Regions from separate parts of the Homo sapiens genome. Here regions 1 and 3 are each linked to region 2. Evidence: fine-mapped expression QTL. A gene starts in region 2. Each other region holds a variant in brackets. All regions are shown on one strand. Distances are from middle to middle. Region 1 has its middle 34 kb from the start of SMTN. Region 2 holds the start of SELENOM (selenoprotein M). Region 3 overlaps INPP5J (inositol polyphosphate-5-phosphatase J).

What was found. PIP is the estimated chance that this variant, and not a neighbour inherited with it, causes the effect. A credible set is the group of variants that fine-mapping cannot tell apart.
Region 1: its variant is the best candidate, but not a certain one, in a credible set for the expression of SELENOM in whole blood (INTERVAL, PIP 0.87).
Region 3: its variant is the best candidate, but not a certain one, in a credible set for the expression of SELENOM in nucleus accumbens (GTEx, PIP 0.82).

Annotation. Positions count from the first base shown.
Region 1 is chr22:31,044,645-31,049,863 of GRCh38, reverse strand. No RefSeq gene overlaps it. Among named protein-coding and RNA genes, the nearest start is that of SMTN, 34 kb to the left of the region's middle. RefSeq lists an enhancer at 4,778-5,219. The variant G/A (reference allele first, on the strand shown) is at 2,599.
Region 2 is chr22:31,105,346-31,110,564 of GRCh38, reverse strand. SELENOM (selenoprotein M) reads left to right here and starts at 2,997. Exons shown (of 5, transcript NM_080430.4): 1 at 2,997-3,188; 2 at 4,600-4,635; 3 at 4,873-4,907. The coding sequence starts at 3,060. LOC105372995 (a long non-coding RNA gene) reads left to right here. Exons shown (of 3, transcript XR_938163.3): 2 at 2,462-2,494; 3 at 2,679-2,929. It overlaps LOC124905100 (a long non-coding RNA gene), which reads right to left and starts at 2,683. Exons shown (of 2, transcript XR_007068063.1): 1 at 2,457-2,683; 2 at 113-586. RefSeq lists an enhancer at 3,541-4,313.
Region 3 is chr22:31,131,947-31,137,138 of GRCh38, reverse strand. It overlaps INPP5J (inositol polyphosphate-5-phosphatase J), which reads right to left. Exons shown (of 13, transcript NM_001284285.2): 10 at 3,904-4,041; 11 at 3,656-3,733; 12 at 3,425-3,529; 13 at 2,442-3,226. The coding sequence ends at 2,720. PLA2G3 (phospholipase A2 group III) reads left to right here. Exons shown (of 7, transcript NM_015715.5): 5 at 99-231; 6 at 340-456; 7 at 1,203-2,332. The coding sequence ends at 1,416. Among named protein-coding and RNA genes, the nearest start is that of PLA2G3, 6.0 kb to the left of the region's middle. The variant T/C (reference allele first, on the strand shown) is at 2,168.

The DNA of each region.
Region 1 (5,219 bases), 61 kb after region 2:
TGTTTATAAACAGTAATAAAAAGAATGATTGGCAAGGCACAGTGGCTCTCACCTGTGACCTCAGTATTTTGGAAGGCCAAGGTGGGCTGATCGCTTGAGCCCAGGAGTTTGAGACCAGTGTGGGCAACACAGTGAGACCCCATCTCTACAAAAAATTAGCCAGGTATGGTGGCACACGCCTGTAGTCCCAGGTACTTGAAAGGCCGAGATGGGAGGATTGCTTTAGCCCAGGAAGTTGAGGCTTCAGTGAGCCGAGATCACACCACTGCACTCCAGCCTGGACAACAGAGCGAGACCCTGTCTCAAAAAAAAAAAAAAAAAAAAAAGAACGATTGCATGTGCATGAAGCACAAGACAGGAGGTAGGGGAGAAGAGTCCACATCACCGTCCCTTGTCCCTGCCCTTGTGGAGCTGCCTTTGTTTGGGTCCTCCCAGAAGCAGGTCTTAAGAGAAGTATTTAAGTTCAAGTAATCTGTCTGGGAGGTGATCCCAGGGAATCCCCTGCAGGGGAGTGGGGAGGTGAGATGGGGAAAGGAAAGCAGCCAATAAATTCAATAAATGAATTGAAAGCACACTTCGATAGGCAACTGGAGTTCAACCCCACTAGGGAAAGCTCAGAGACAGTCATCCCAACCAAGGAGCAAGAGGCAGCTGGAGTATCTAGCCACCAACTTCTCATTCTTCACTGGTTGAGGGATGCTTCTGGAACTCAGCCTTCCCGCTTGCCAGAGGACAGGCCCAAGTGTGCTCCTGAGGTCAGAACAACACAGTCAAGCAGTTACATTCACAGTAAGAAGCCTTTGATGGGTAGAGGTATCATCAGGGGCCTCTGGGCGGTATCTGCTCCAGAGGCTGACCACTAATGAGTTTTCCATCCACAGGAAAAGGCAGAAGGAGGCCCAGGAGACATGCCTTCCCCTCCCTGGGTGGGGTTATGGAGGCCGTGTGGAGTGCATAGTGGGCCTTTTGCCTGTTCAGGCCCCCATCACCCCTTTCTTCTCATTTTGAGGAATCACCTTACCCCACTGTGGTCCACATCGTCCTCTTCAACACTGTACTAGACCACATTTCCCAGCCTCCCTTGCTGTTAGGGGAGCCATGTGACTGATTCCAGCCAATGAAATGTGAGCAGAAGGGACATGTGCTGTTTTCAGACTTGGTCCATAAATACCAACCACTCACTTCCTTTCGCTTTTTCTCTCTTTTTAACTTTTTTGGAGACAGGGTCCCACTCTGTTACCCAGGCTGGAGTGCAGTGGCGTGATCATGGCTCACTGCAGCCTTCACCTCCTGGGCTCAAGTGATCATCCCAGGTTCAAGCAATCCTCCAGCCTCAGCCTCTTGAGTAGCTAGGACAACAGGTATACACCACCACACCTGGCTAATTTTTTTATTCTTTATTTTTTTTGTAGAGACAAGGTCCCACTATGTTTCTTAGGCTGGTCTCGAACTCCTGTGCTCCAGCAATCCTCCTGCCTTGGCCTTCCAAATAGCTGTGATTATAAGTGTGAGCCACTGTGCCTGTCTCGCTTTTTGGAATGTCTTCAATGGTGCTTTGGAGGAAGAAAACATCATGTGAATGACTACACAAATCACTATTGTCAGTTGGGAGTTAGCTCTGAGAGGAAAAGTTTAGGGTGTCTTGAGCACTTTGACTTGAGATCCAGCAGAGGAAGTCATGGGCAAAGGCCCTGAAGCAGGAAGGAGGAGTCTGAAGTGGGCCATGGTGACTGGAGGTTATGAACAAAGCTGAATGGCCTGAGAGGAAGGCACATGATCTTGATGTAAAACTCATAGGTGTGTGTATTAGTCTGTTTTCACGCTGCTGATAAAGACATACCAAGACTGGGAATAAAAAGAGGTTTAATTGGACTTACAGTTCCACATGGCTGGGGAGGCCTCACAATCATGGCGGAAGGCAAAAGGCACTTCATACATGGTGGCGGCAAGAGGGATGAGGAAGAAGCAAAAGCAGAAACCCCTGATAAACCCATCAGATCTCATGAGACTTATTCACTATCACGAGAATAGCATGGGAAAGACCGGCCCCCATGATTCAATTACCTCCCCCTGGGTCCCTCCCACAACACATGGGAATTCTGGGAGATACAATTCAAGTTGAGATTTGGGCGGGGACACAGCCAAACCATATCAGTGTGTGAGGAGTTAGATGGATATGGGCTGGACACTGCCCTGGCACCCTTCTTCCTCTTTCTGGGGACAGAGAGCCAGTTTGAGAAACCAGATTATAACCAGGAGGGGCTGAGCCTAGAAATTCAACAGAATTTGGGCATACATGTGGCTTGCAGAGACATGGAATTCAGTGGTTCCCATGCCTGGAGCCCCCTGCTCTGGTCTATAGTGGCAGAAGGGCTTTTCTGTCTTCCAGACACAGCTCAGTCTCACCTCATTCTCAGGTCATGTGGCCTGAATTTGATGGGTTTTCAAATCATGTGCCCCGACCATCTTGTGTATGGGCTGGGTACCTCTCATCCTACACAAATGACTTTCCAGGTCAGGTGCTGTGGCTCACACCTGTAATCCCAGCACTTTGGGAGGCCGAGACGGGGAGATCACCTAAACTGGGAGTTCAGGATC[G/A]GCCTGGCCAACATGGCGAAACCCTGTCTCTACTAAAAGTACAAAAATTTAGCTGGGCATGGTAGTGCAAACCTGTAATTCCAGCTACTTGGGAGGCTAAGGCTATGAGAATCGCATGAAACGGGAGGCAGAGGGGGTTCAAGTGATCACACAGCGAGCCGAGATCGTGCAACTGTACTCCAGCTTGGGCGACAGAGGGAGACTCTGTCTCAAAACAAACAAACAAACAAACAAACAAAACAAATGACTTTCCAACATCAGTGCAATAGGCTCTTCTTGAGGACTAGCCTGGGAGCCTTGCTCCTTGGTGTTGTGAAACCTCAAGTAACTGATTTAATATTGAACTGCTGGGCCAGAGCTGCAAGCCTGACCTCAGGGGCTGCCTTTCTCCTGCCCCACCCCCTCCCCTGGAGCAGTGTCCTCTGGGGAAATGCAGCTGACCCAGCTGCATCCGTGGGAAGGCCTGGCCCCCACACTTCACCTTCTCAGCCCTGCCTCTCGGCCACAGGAAATGACCCTCTTAGCAGCCACGAGCTGTGATCCAGAGGACAATGACAGAGGGACGGAAGCCCTGTTTGTCCCAGCTAACTTGTTCCCTTGGGTGGATGCCAGCTGCTGAAACAAAAAACTGAAGATTCAGTGGAAAACATATTTTTTACAAAACAAACAAACAACCCTGTGGGCTTTAGCCAACTTCTGAGGCTCTGGGGCCGGGGGAGGGGGGGTTGTTTTCTTTACTTGCTTCTGTGTGTGTGTTTAAAACACAGATAAAGCTCAGAGAATCAAATAGCCTAAAGCTTGGAAGAAGGCCAGTGATCCCACCCTAGCAGCAGAGCCCCCCTGTGGTGTCTTTCTTCATGTGGCTGGGCCCCACTTCTCCACACCACTGTTCATCATGTCACTTGGCTCCGGCCACTGCCCCCACCCCACCTCCATTCACCACCCAGAAGTCAGAAAGCTCTGCTCAAACCCACATCAAGTCACCATTCTAGGGCTCTGCAGGCTGCCTGTCTCAGTCTTCAAGTCTCCAGCTCAAATGCCACCTCCTCCAAGGGGCTTCCCTGACCATTCCATATGAAATAGCACCTCTCAGTCTCTCTCCCTCCCATAGCACTTGTAACTCTTACTATATCTGGAATGATCTGCTTTGTTTCCACGTGCCAGGCACGTAGTAGCTACTCAATAAATGTTGGTTGACTGGCAATGTTTCTCAGTGGTTGTTGCATTCAGATGAAAACTGGCTTAGAAAATCCATATTCCATTGTATTTCAACAAACATTATTGGCCACAAACAGTGCTAGGGATCAGAGGCAAATTAGTTGGGATTCGTTCATTCACTCACTCACTCATTCATTCATGAGAAGGGTAGACCCCATGGTAAATGGGGATTCAGCCGGGGGTGCAGAGAACCAGGAAAGCTTTAGGTGGGAGGAGATTGTTGGTGGGTTTCCCCCCATTAAAGTAGGGTTCAGAGGTGTGAGCAAGAAAGTGTTTGGAAAAACAAGAGAACCTTGGGGTGTGGAATTTAATTTATTCCCACTTAGAACCCCCAGGGAGGGCAGAGACCCGATTTTATCTGGGGCTGCAGAGAGGGCACTCTCCATGTGCTTGTTGAAGGAACTGAGGGATGAGGGATGGTCAGGTAGTGTATGAAGTTTATGGCTCTGTTTAAGAGGTTGCTGTGACGTCCCGAATGCCAGGCTATGAAGCCTGGATTTCCATCTATAGGGAACAGAGTCTAATCAAAATAATGATTTTGGTGCTGGGTGTGGTGACTCATGCCTGTAATCCTAACATTTTGGGAGGCTGAGGCGGGAGGATCGCTTGAGCTCAGGAGTTCAAGATCAGCCTGGAGAACATAGTGAGATGGAGTCGCTAATTAAAAAAAAAAAAAATTAGCCAGGCATGGTGGTGCGTGCCTGTAGTCCTAACTACTGGGGAGACTGAGGCAGGATGACCACTTGAGCCTGGGAGGTTGAGGCTGTAAAGAGGTGTGATTGAGCCACTGCACTCCAGCCTGGGTGACAAAGCGAGACCCTGTTTCAAAAAAAAAAACCGGCTGCCACGCACGGTGGCTTACACCTGTAATCTTAGTACTTTGGGAGGTCGAGGCAGGTGGATCACCTGAGTTCAGGAGTTCAAGACCAGCCTGGGCAACACAGTGAAACCCTGTCTCTACTAAAAATACAAAAATTGGCTGGGCGTGGTGGTGTGTCCCTGTAGTCCCAGCTACTTGGGAGGCTGAGGTAGGAGAATCACTTGAACCTGGGAGGTGGAGGTTGCAGTGAGCCGAGATTGTGCCCCTCACTCCAGCCTGGGGGACAGAGCAAGACTCCGTCTCAAAAATAATAATAATTATAAAATAATAATGATTTGCAAAGCCTGTTTGAAGTGCCTGAATGTCACTGATTCCTGAACTCCAGTTCTCTAGCTACATCAGAGTATCCAAACCCCATCCTAGAAGAGTCTGATTCACCGTAAGTTGGAGTCGGGGCCTGGCCATCTGCCATTTTCACACACTTGCCAGATGTCGTTGCTATTCACTAGGTTTGGTGACCACTGAGGCTCAGAGAGGTGAAGGCACTTGCCCAAAGTCTGTAGGTGGTGGGGGAGGGGGCGGA
Region 2 (5,219 bases):
TGATCGTTTAAAGATGATATCTGGAAAAAGACAATTATCAGTTCCAGTCAACATTGTACCAGAGGCCCCAGACCGTAAAATTAAGACAGTGCAACGAAACAAAACCAAGGTATAAGGACCAGAAAGGAAGAAAACCACTTTTATTTCCAGATGATATAATATGCATATGTAGAAAATAAAAAAAAATATCCAGTTAAACTATTAGAGTAAGAAAATTCAGTAAGGTCACTGGCTGCAAGGTTAATATACAAAAATCAATTGTCTTCCTATATGCTACTACCAAGCAACTTGAAAATGAATATGTAAAAACAATAGAGTTTGTAATGCTATAAAAAATTAAATACCTAGGAGTAAATCTAATGAAAGATATGCAAGATATTTATTCTAAAAACCACAAAATATTATTGAAGGAAATTAAAGAAGACCTATAGAAATGGAGGGACTTACTATGTTCGTGGAAGAAAAGTCACAATAATGTAAAGCTGTAGAGTCTCCCCACATTGATTTCCCCAGTGGGAATCTGAAATCCTGATAGAAATTTGGAAGGTTTTTCTGTGGAGGTTGACGAGCTGGCCCTAAATTGTACCTGGAAGTGTGAAAGGCCAAGTATAGTCAAGACAACCTTCAAGAAGAACAAAGCTAGACTGCGATGGCTTACTGAGGCTGTGGGATCACACATGGCCCTCACCACAGGAAAATGTAGGCCACAGGCCAGGCATGGTCGCTCATGCCTGTAATCCCAGTACTTTGGGAGGCCAAGGCAGGAGGATCACTTGAGCCCAGGAGTTTGCGACCAGCTTGGTCAACATGGTGAAACCTCGTCTCTACTAAAAAGACAAAAAATTAGCCGGGTGTGGTGGCCGACGCCTGTAATCCCAGCTACTTAGGAGGCTGAGGCAAGAGAATCGCTTGAACCTGGGAGGCAGAGGTTGCAGTGAGTCCGGATCATGCCACTGGACATGAGAGTGTCCAGCCTGGACAATGAGAGTGAAACTCCGTCTCAAAAAAAAAAAAAAAAAATCAGCTGGGCATGATGGTGCATGCCTGTAGTCCCAGCTACTCAGGAGGCTGAGGTGGGAGGATTGCTTGAGCCTGGGAGGTTCAGGCTGTGATTGAGCCACTGCACTCCAGCCTGGGCAACAGAGCAAGACTCTGTCTCAAAAAAAAAAAAAAAATAGCCAGCCCAGCAGCTCACACCTGTAATCCCAGGACTTTGGGAGGCCAAGGCGGGTGGATGACTTGAGGTTAGGAGTTCGAGACCAGCCTGGCCAAGATGATGAAACCCCCATATTTACTAAAAATACAAAATTAGCTGGGCGTGGTGGTGGGCACCTGTAATCCCAGCTACTTGGGAGGCTGAGGCAGAAGAATCGCTTGAACCTGGGAGGTGGAGGTTGCAGTGAGCTGAGATCGTGCCACTGCACTCCAGCCTGGCTGACAGAGCAAGACTCTGTCTCAAAAAAACAAACAAACAAAAAAACAAAAAAAAATGGGCCAGGCGCAGTGGCTCACACCTGTTATCCCAGCACTTTGGGAGGCTGAGACGGGCGGATCATGAGATCAGGAGATCAAGAACATCCTGGCTAACACAGTGAAACCCCATCTCTACTAAAAATACAAAAAAATTAGCTGGGCGTGGTGGCGCGTGCCTGTAGTCCCAGCTACTCGGGAGGCTGAGGCAGGAGAATTGCTTGAACCCGGGAGGCGGAGGTTGCAGTGAGCCGAGATCAGGCCACTGAACTCCAGCCTGGGCAACAGAGCGAGACTCCGTCTCAAAAAAAAAAAGAAAGAAAGAAAGAACAAAGCTAGAGGACCAACACACAACCAGATGTCAAGTCTGACTATAAAGCTATAGTTAATAAGACAGCGTAGTTAGACAAACCCACTGAAGGACTAGAATAGGGTATGATATTCAGAAGTAGACTCCCATATATTTATATGGTTACCTATTTATTTATTTATTTATTTTTGAGACAGTCTCTGTCGCCCAGGCTGGAGTGCAGTGGTAGGATGTCGGCTCATTGCAAACTCTGCCTCCCAGGTTGAAGTGATTCTCCTGCCTCAGCCTCCCAAGTAGCTAGGATTACAGGCGCCCACACCACGCCCAGCTAATTTTTGTATTTTTAGTAGCGATGGGGTTTCACCATGTTGGCCAGGCTGGCCTCGAACTTCTGACCTCAAGTGATCTACCCACCTCGGCCTCCCAAAGTGCTGGGATTACAGGTGTGAGCCACCACGCCCGGCCGTGGTTGCCTATTTATATATAACAGAGGTAACGCGGCAGAGTAGCAATGAAAAAGACAAGATTTTTAATTGAATTGGATAGCCACATTAAAAAAAAAAGTAAATCCTGACTCCATAAATTTAACCCAGCTGATTTAAGACCCTGTTGTGGCCTATCAGCTGTAACCCTCCTTGCATTTTCCCACCTTTGAATAGCAAATTCCTTTCCTCACCCCAGGTCAGAAAGTCTGCTCAGCAGTAGCTGTGGATGGTAAGAAGACACGCTGGTAGGTCTCAGTGGCTCCCAGAAGCCGCACCCCCTCCACCGAACCTCACTCCTCATCTCCCACGCTCCAAAGCGAGGAGTCCTCAGAAAGCCAGTTTCCCTTATTTATTCTTCTTTCTTTCTTTCCTTTTTTTTTCTTGGATGTCCTACCAGTTTCCCTATCTTAAAGTCGCAGGTTCGGCTCAGAAACTCCAGTGTCCCTCAGCGTCTCGCCGGCACCCTCTGCCGGCGTGAGGTGGCGCTGCCTGGCCGCATCCTGGGGGAGCGTCCACATCCTCGGTCGACAAAAGGAGCGTCGACACTCTCGGACCTGGGAAAGTGACGGCCCAAACGCCAGGGAGGAGCCAGGACCTCGCCCTGAGCTAGCGGGAGGTAACGGCGGGGAGTCCTGGGGCGGAGACCGAGCGCTGGGGGCGTGGTCTCCAGCGGGACTGGGCCTCTAGCGGGAGTGGGGGCGGGGGCGGGGGCGGGGCCAGCCTGGGGGCCCAGACGTGGCGCAGCGACTCGGAGGTTCGCCTCCAGCTTGCGCATCATCTGCGGCCGGGTCCCGATGAGCCTCCTGTTGCCTCCGCTGGCGCTGCTGCTGCTTCTCGCGGCGCTTGTGGCCCCAGCCACAGCCGCCACTGCCTACCGGCCGGACTGGAACCGTCTGAGCGGCCTAACCCGCGCCCGGGTAGAGGTGAGTACGCCGGCCTCCAGCCCCGGCACTATCGTTCCCCAACCCTGCGGCCCCATGGGAGCACCGTCCGTCCCGGCCCCAAGACCACCTCGAACCGCGAGTCTCCCTGCTTTCCCCCTGGCGCCGGGACCATCCCTCCTGTTCCCTAGCCCCAGATGGCCCCAGCATCCACCGTGGAAGCCTGAGACACCGACTTTGGGGCCTGGAACTCCGAACCCTTCCCCAGCTCCCCCTACCCGGTCCGACAGCGGACACCCAGACACACTGACGCAGTCTCCTAACTCTTCTCGTGGCCTATGACTCCCAATCCTGTCCCAACTTCCCATCCCCCATCACTTCATGTTTTCCTGGAATTCCCCCCCGACCCGGTTCCAGGGCTGGAGGCTCCAGAAAGTCTCTTTTCCTTCTCCTGGGGGGAAAGAAGACTTTCTGGGTGCCTCCTCCCATATGCAGGATCCGGGGAAGGGGGCCAACTCGGAGGGGCAACCGAGTTGGGAACTTGGTTGCCAACATTTACTCTGCAGCAGCCTCCCATCCTCCCCCAACCAGGAAATTCCCGTTCGGAGTCCCTGTCTTGCTATGTGACTTTGACCATCACAGCCCGCCTCTGAGCTTTTTGTCAGCTCTGTCTGACAAAAGGGTGTAGAATGGTTGGGTGCCGGTGGTGCACGCCTGTAATCCCAGCACTTTGGGAGGCCAAGGCAGGAGGATTGCTTGAGCCCAGGAGTTCAAGACCAGCTTGGGGGACATAGTGAGACCCTGTCTCTAAGAAAAGGGCTGAGGGTAGGATGGAGGAGGGCTGGAGTGGGTGGTCCTGGGGTCTAGACTCCTGCTGGATGGTGGCATCTCCTCAGGGAAGGCAGGGAGGAGCCCTCCCATCCTCCCATGTCAGGGAAGCAACCACATGGTCTGTGGGGCTGGGCCGCAGGTGGCAGGCAGGGTGAGGTCTGCCTGTGTAGAGTAGGGACCAGATGGTAGGTGTCTCCAATGGGGGCCCCCAGGGCCATTCTGAGGTGTTTCCTTCTGCTCTGCCTCCACTGTGAGATTTCAGGGATCAAAGGCCAAGCCCAGGTCTCTACTGCTTAAGAGGAGCAGGGTGATCATTTCCCCTGGGCATTGGGAGTCAGTCCACAGCCAGTAGGATGTACAGGCCCCAAGGCTGGCAGGCACACTGTGGGTCTCTGGCCTTGCTCTTTTCCCCTGGTGTCTCTAGGCCTGAGTCTCCCCACCTGTATACACAGTTCCCCCTTCTGCCCACAAGGGTCCAGCATTTCCTTCAGACCTTGGGAACTGCTGATCCGGGGATAACTCACAGCCCGACCCAACTCAGGGATAAGGAAGTATGGCTTTGGGGATGTGACTGGAATAAACGTGAAGGACTCCTGACCTATCCCATTTTATCCCCCTCCAGACCTGCGGGGGATGACAGCTGAACCGCCTAAAGGAGGTGAGTTTGAAGGAAGAGGTCCCTAGCTCTGTTCCCCCTGAGCCTCTTGGGGAGTGGGCAACATGGTCCCAATGACTGGGGCGGGGAGGGGGGAAGGATCCCTAGGCTGAGAGTCTAGCCTAGGCTGAGAGTCTAGCCTGCACCTGACTTGCTTTATGACCTCACTGGGCTTCAGTGTCTCGTCTGTACCTCGAGTAGACTGAGGTCATGGTCTCTGATGCTCTGGTTCCTCCCCAGGTGAAGGCTTTCGTCACGCAGGACATTCCATTCTAGTATCCTTCTGTTCTGGGGGAGGGGAAATGGGATGGGCACCTGGGAGAATCTCCACGTAACTTCAGAAAGGGGTGGCAGATGGTTTTCAACTGACAAGTTGAATTGATTGGTAGTGGCTCCCAGAGGATTCTGAGGTGGTCTCCATGTTGGGTGGGCAAGAGAGATTGACTAGTGATGACTGCCACAGAATGGAGAGGAGGGCCCTTTACTTCTTTGAACCCTAATTTTCTCACGTATAAGCGGAGACCCTGGCCCCTCCCGGGCACAGAGTAAGCTCTGAGCAAAGGAGGCAATGCTGTTCCCATCAGTAA
Region 3 (5,192 bases), 27 kb before region 2:
ACTGAGCACACGTGCTGGTGTTTCTCCCGGATGGCGCAGGCATTGGTGGGGCCTCCCTGGTGGATTGGGCTCCCATCAACACCACATCCACCCCTCAGGTGCCCGCTGGGTCTGCCGCAGCTTCCGCCGCCACCTGGACCAGTGTGAGCACCAGATTGGGCCCCGGGAAATCGAGTTCCAGCTGCTCAACAGCGCCCAAGAGCCCCTCTTCCACTGCAACTGCACGCGCCGGTGAGGCCCCTTTGAACCCTCGCGGGGTGGGCTGCCTGCTGCCAGGCATGGGAAGGGGCCCCTGGCTGGCAAGGCCCTGCCCCGGCCTGAGCCTGCCTCTGTTCTCAGTCTGGCACGCTTCCTGAGGCTCCACAGCCCACCCGAGGTTACCAACATGCTTTGGGAGCTGCTGGGCACAACCTGCTTCAAGCTGGCCCCTCCACTGGACTGTGTGGAAGGCAAAAAGTAAGTGATGTCAGAGCCAGGAGGGATGGGGGGTTTTCTCAAAGGGTGGGTTGCCTATACCCACTTTGAATGCTTGGGCCAAGGGGTAGGGGAAGGGATCCGGAGACCTCTGAGCTCCTATCCATAGCCTCATCCCTCTACCCCCTGCTGCCCCAGGTCCAGCTCTGCAGTTGGCCTCTATGGGTCGCATCTTGGCTTTGTCATTTGATTCCCACATGACCTTGGCAACTGGTTCACCTTTCCAAGTTTCCATGTCTTTGTCTGTAAAATGGTCGTAGGAACCAAGGAAACGGCAGGATGCACATAGGTCATGCCCCGCCTGGCACACAGCAAAATGTGTACTTAACTCACTCCTAATCCACAATCTCATTTGGTCTTGAACTTCTGGACTCGAGCGATCCTCCCACCTCGGCCTCCTAAAGTGCTGGGATTACAGGCGTGAGCCACTGTGCTCTGCTTTCATCTGGATTCCGATTCTCAAAGCCAGCTCCTTCTTAACTTTCCCATTTCATAGATGAGGCTGAGGCTTCTGGCTCAGGTTTCCACAGCCAGCTAGTGGCAGAACCCAGGCCTCCAGGTACCAGCCCGGTTTATTATACCCTTTCTCCGTGAAACCCACCCCTCTCTGCCTTGCTGGTGACTGTGGCCCCAGCCCCCTCTCTCTCTGGGCCTCAGCCCACTGTCTGCAGAGTAAGGTGGGATCCTTGTCAGCCCTGATCATCTGCCCCACTCTTCTCTCCTTACAGCTGTTCCAGAGACCCTAGGGCCATCAGGGTGTCAGCCCGGCACTTGCGGAGGCTTCAGCAGAGGCGACACCAGCTCCAGGATAAAGGCACAGATGAGAGGCAGCCATGGCCTTCAGAGCCCCTGAGAGGCCCCATGTCATTCTACAACCAGTGCCTGCAGCTAACCCAGGCAGCCAGGAGACCCGACAGGCAGCAGAAGTCCTGGAGCCAGTGACCTCAGTTTCAGCTTTCCTGGGCACCAGCCTGGACCTTGCCCATGGCTATGCCAAGCCTTGGGAATCTCAGCCTCCCCTCCGTAGGTTAGACTGAAGCATGGCAGAGGCTGTTGTGGACAATCAAGAGGATGAATGGGGGGATCTCAAGGCCCAAATGCTGGACCACATCTCCTGCTGTTCTGGGTAACCTTGAGCTATGTATGACACAACTCTTCTATGCCTGGATGTGGTGTTCAGGAAGCTCATTCTGATGCCCTGGGCTTTGGCCTTGCCAGGGAACTTCACATACAGATGAGAATGGGGAAAGGGTAACTTATTGCAGCAGCCCCAGGCAGTACCAGGAGGAGGTACATGTATGTCCGTGTTGCAAAAATAATACATGCCTCAAAAACCTGCCTAGGGGAGCCCTAGTGCCTGGGTGCTGTGGCCTGAGGTAGCAGGTGGGAAGTTAGGGATGTCACAGAAATGTCTGTGTCTGAATCCAGGATTGGGGTGGGTGTTGGAGAGGGCTTTCAGCTCCCCTCCTCCCAGGGGGGCCTCTTTTTTTAACGGCTGCCGTGCCCTTCCTGGCCCAGCCCTAAACCTAAATTCAAATCTCCTCCATGCCTTTGCGCAAAGGACCTCCCTCTTGCACTCTAAGCCTTAGTTTCCTCCTCTAAAAAAAGGGGGTCTCTAAACAGGAGCTACCTCATAGGGTTGTTGAGGATTAAGTGAACCAATACATATACAGTGCTTAGCACTTAATAAGTA[T/C]TCCCCCCTGCGACACCTAGCTGAACTATGGTTTGGTGTCTGATCTTGAGAGGTTGATGTAACCTTTTAAAGGCCTCAGTTCGCTCACCTGTGAAATGGGTCTAAGAATAGCACTGATCTCACAGGGTTGTGATGCAGATTAAAGGAGATGGCATGTGTAATGTATACAGCTGGTGCCTGGTAAATGTCGGTTCTGTCATTCCCTCACCTCTTCAGTCCCTGCCTCTGACTACCACCATCCCAAGACTACTAACAAGTAGGAAAGAGCCGAGAGTGAGGCTGGAGAATTTAATTCCTAATGGATGACCTCCAGGATTGGGACATCTGCCAGAGCTCTCCCATCATCCCAGATGGGGGCCTGGGTGGGGCTTTGCTGATTGTCACAGTTGAGGTGCCAGGACTGAGTTTTGGGGGACCCCAGTTGTCCACCCCTGGCCAGGACAGAGAGGCAGGTGCAGATACAGCTGGAGGAGCAGCAGGAGAGAGGCAGGTGGGCTTGCAAAAGATTGAGGCAGAATGGTGGTCACCTTGGCCCATCTGCCTACCCCACCCTCAGGGCCCCAGGCCCCCTTCCTCCAGCCCCCGATGGCCCTGGGGACTAGGAGACAGGCTGTTGGGCGCCAGGGCCTCCCGATCAGGTCCCCAGGAGCCACCACCACCAGGGTCTACAGTCTCTAGGCGCAAGGCGGGCAACAGGCCCAGGCTTCGAGGCACAGCTGGTGGGAAGGCCCAGGGGCCAGGCAACCCAGAGGGCCCCTCTTCACTACTGCCCCGGCTGCTGCCATTACTGCTCCTGTCAGGAGCCACTCGGGACAGGCGGCGGCTCTGGGGTGAGGGGCTACGGCTGGCACCACGGCGTTCACGGGATGAGGGCCGTAGGGCAAGCCCAGGGAACCTGGCCAGTCCCGGGCTGCGGCTGCGGTGTCGCTTGGACTTGCCAGGACTGGGGCTGCGGGACTTGGGTGCAAGGAGCTCCAGTGTGCTGTCATCCTCTCCCTCTGAGCTGGTGCCTGAGCTGTCTGTGCTGCTGCTGGCCAACTCCGAGGAAGGCAGCGAGATCTGGGGGAAATGCTGGTCACTGGGGCGCCCTGCTCCCCAACCCAGCCACTGAGGCCTGACCTCCCGAGGTCTGCCTCTCTCGTTGGCAGATCTTGGGAGGTCAGGTTATTTGTCTGAACTCAAGGAGCAGAATGTAGAGGCTGTGGCATTTGACAAAAGTCTTTAGGCACCCCCAGCCCAGCAGTCTGGCCTACTTACCTGGAAGGGTTCAGTGATGCCGATGAGGATGCTGTGGTTGTGACTATAGTAGCCCAGGATGAAGTCTCCATGGCCCTTGGGCAGTGATTCCTCACTGAATGTTACCTGGTAGGCCCAGGGGTATAAGCCTAAGTTGGGGGTCAGGGAGGCCACCTGAGAGCCCCCAAGGTGAGTTCTGAGGTCCCAAAGGCAACAAGGACTTGCCCTGACTCTCCCACTCCTTTTAAGTACCTGGTAGGTATTCCCATCCACATCTTCATGTTTGGCCCAGACATAAGCCACATAGTCCTTGCAATGGCGGAAACCCACCTGGGGGATCAGTGTTGTGGAATCAGTGTTGTGACCCTATAATGTCTGATCCCAGCAGTCTCCCAGTGTGGCATCAAGATCTGGACAAGCCAGTGACCCCACCATGCTGTTCAGCTGCTCCTCCAGGCCCCTTTCTTCCCTGAGTCGCTGACCACCACTGCCCCTCTCACCCGGTATAAGCCGATCCAGTCCCAGGAGCTGCGGGCGAACACTGTTTCCATGCGGTACCTCACCACCGCCTGCTCGGGCCGCACCCACTCATCTGCCACCTCCAGCCGCACCAGTGGCATGTCGTCCCTGAAGGCAAACTGTCCAGGCAAGGCAGGGGCAGGGGGCCACATCAGGGGAGACCCTCTAGTATCCCACACACTTAAGGCTCTTGGGTCTTAGCACAAATTGCCTGAGACAAAGGGCCACTTTACAGACTGGGAAACTGAGGCAGAACAGGTCTAGTATAAATACCAAGCCCTGTGCTGCCTCCCAGCCCAGGGTTCCTTCTGCCCACAGCCTCCTTAGGGAGTGAGTGAGAACATAGCTTTGAAGCTAGCAAATCCTGGATTTGGCTCTGGTTCTGCCGTTGACAGGCTGGGTGAGTTCCTCAGCCTCTCTGAATGCCAGGGCCCTCATCTGTAAACTCAGAGACTCTTTTTTTTTTTTTTCTTTTTCTGAGATGGAGTCTCGCTCTGTCACCCAGGCTGGAGTGCAGTGGTGCAATCTCGGCTCACTGCAACCTCCACCTCCCGGGTTCAAGTGATTCTCCTGTCTCAGCCTCCCCAGTAGCTGAGACCACAGGTACCGCCATCACGCCTGGCTAATTTTTGTATTTTTAGTAGAGGCAGCGTTTCACCATGTTGGCCAGGCTGTTCTTGAACTCCTGACCTCAAATGATCCACCCACCTCAGCCTCCCAAAGTGCTGGGATTATAGGCATGAGCCACCGTGCCCGGCCAAACTCAGAGACTCTTATTTTACTCTTGGAGTTGTTCAGCAGATTCAGTGAGACACCATTTGCAAAGCATCCCATAAATTTCCCAGTATACCAGTAAGTGCTCAATAAATGATTTGTCTCTATGCTAGCAAGGAAGACCAATAAAATCCTATGATGCACTGGGTATTTGGGGTAAGCTGAATATTCCTGAGCAGGCAAGAAGAGCTCTGCGTGGGAGGATGGAGACCTCAGTCCACTTCCAGGCTCTACTGCTAACTCGCTATGTTACCCCAGGGCAGGCTCTAACCATCCCAAGGTTCAGTTTCTCCAACTGAGTCTAAGTACTAAGCGGTTACTAACTATTACCTTGTCATCAGTCCATGAAGGAAAGTTATAACCACGAGTATCCTTTCCCCAAGGTCAACCCAGACCCACCAGGGGCGCCACCTGAATGGGTGGAGCTGCTGAGGTGGCAGGCTGCCAGGATATTGACCCCACCTCTGTCCCTCAGGGAAGGACTGAGTTGTTGCCA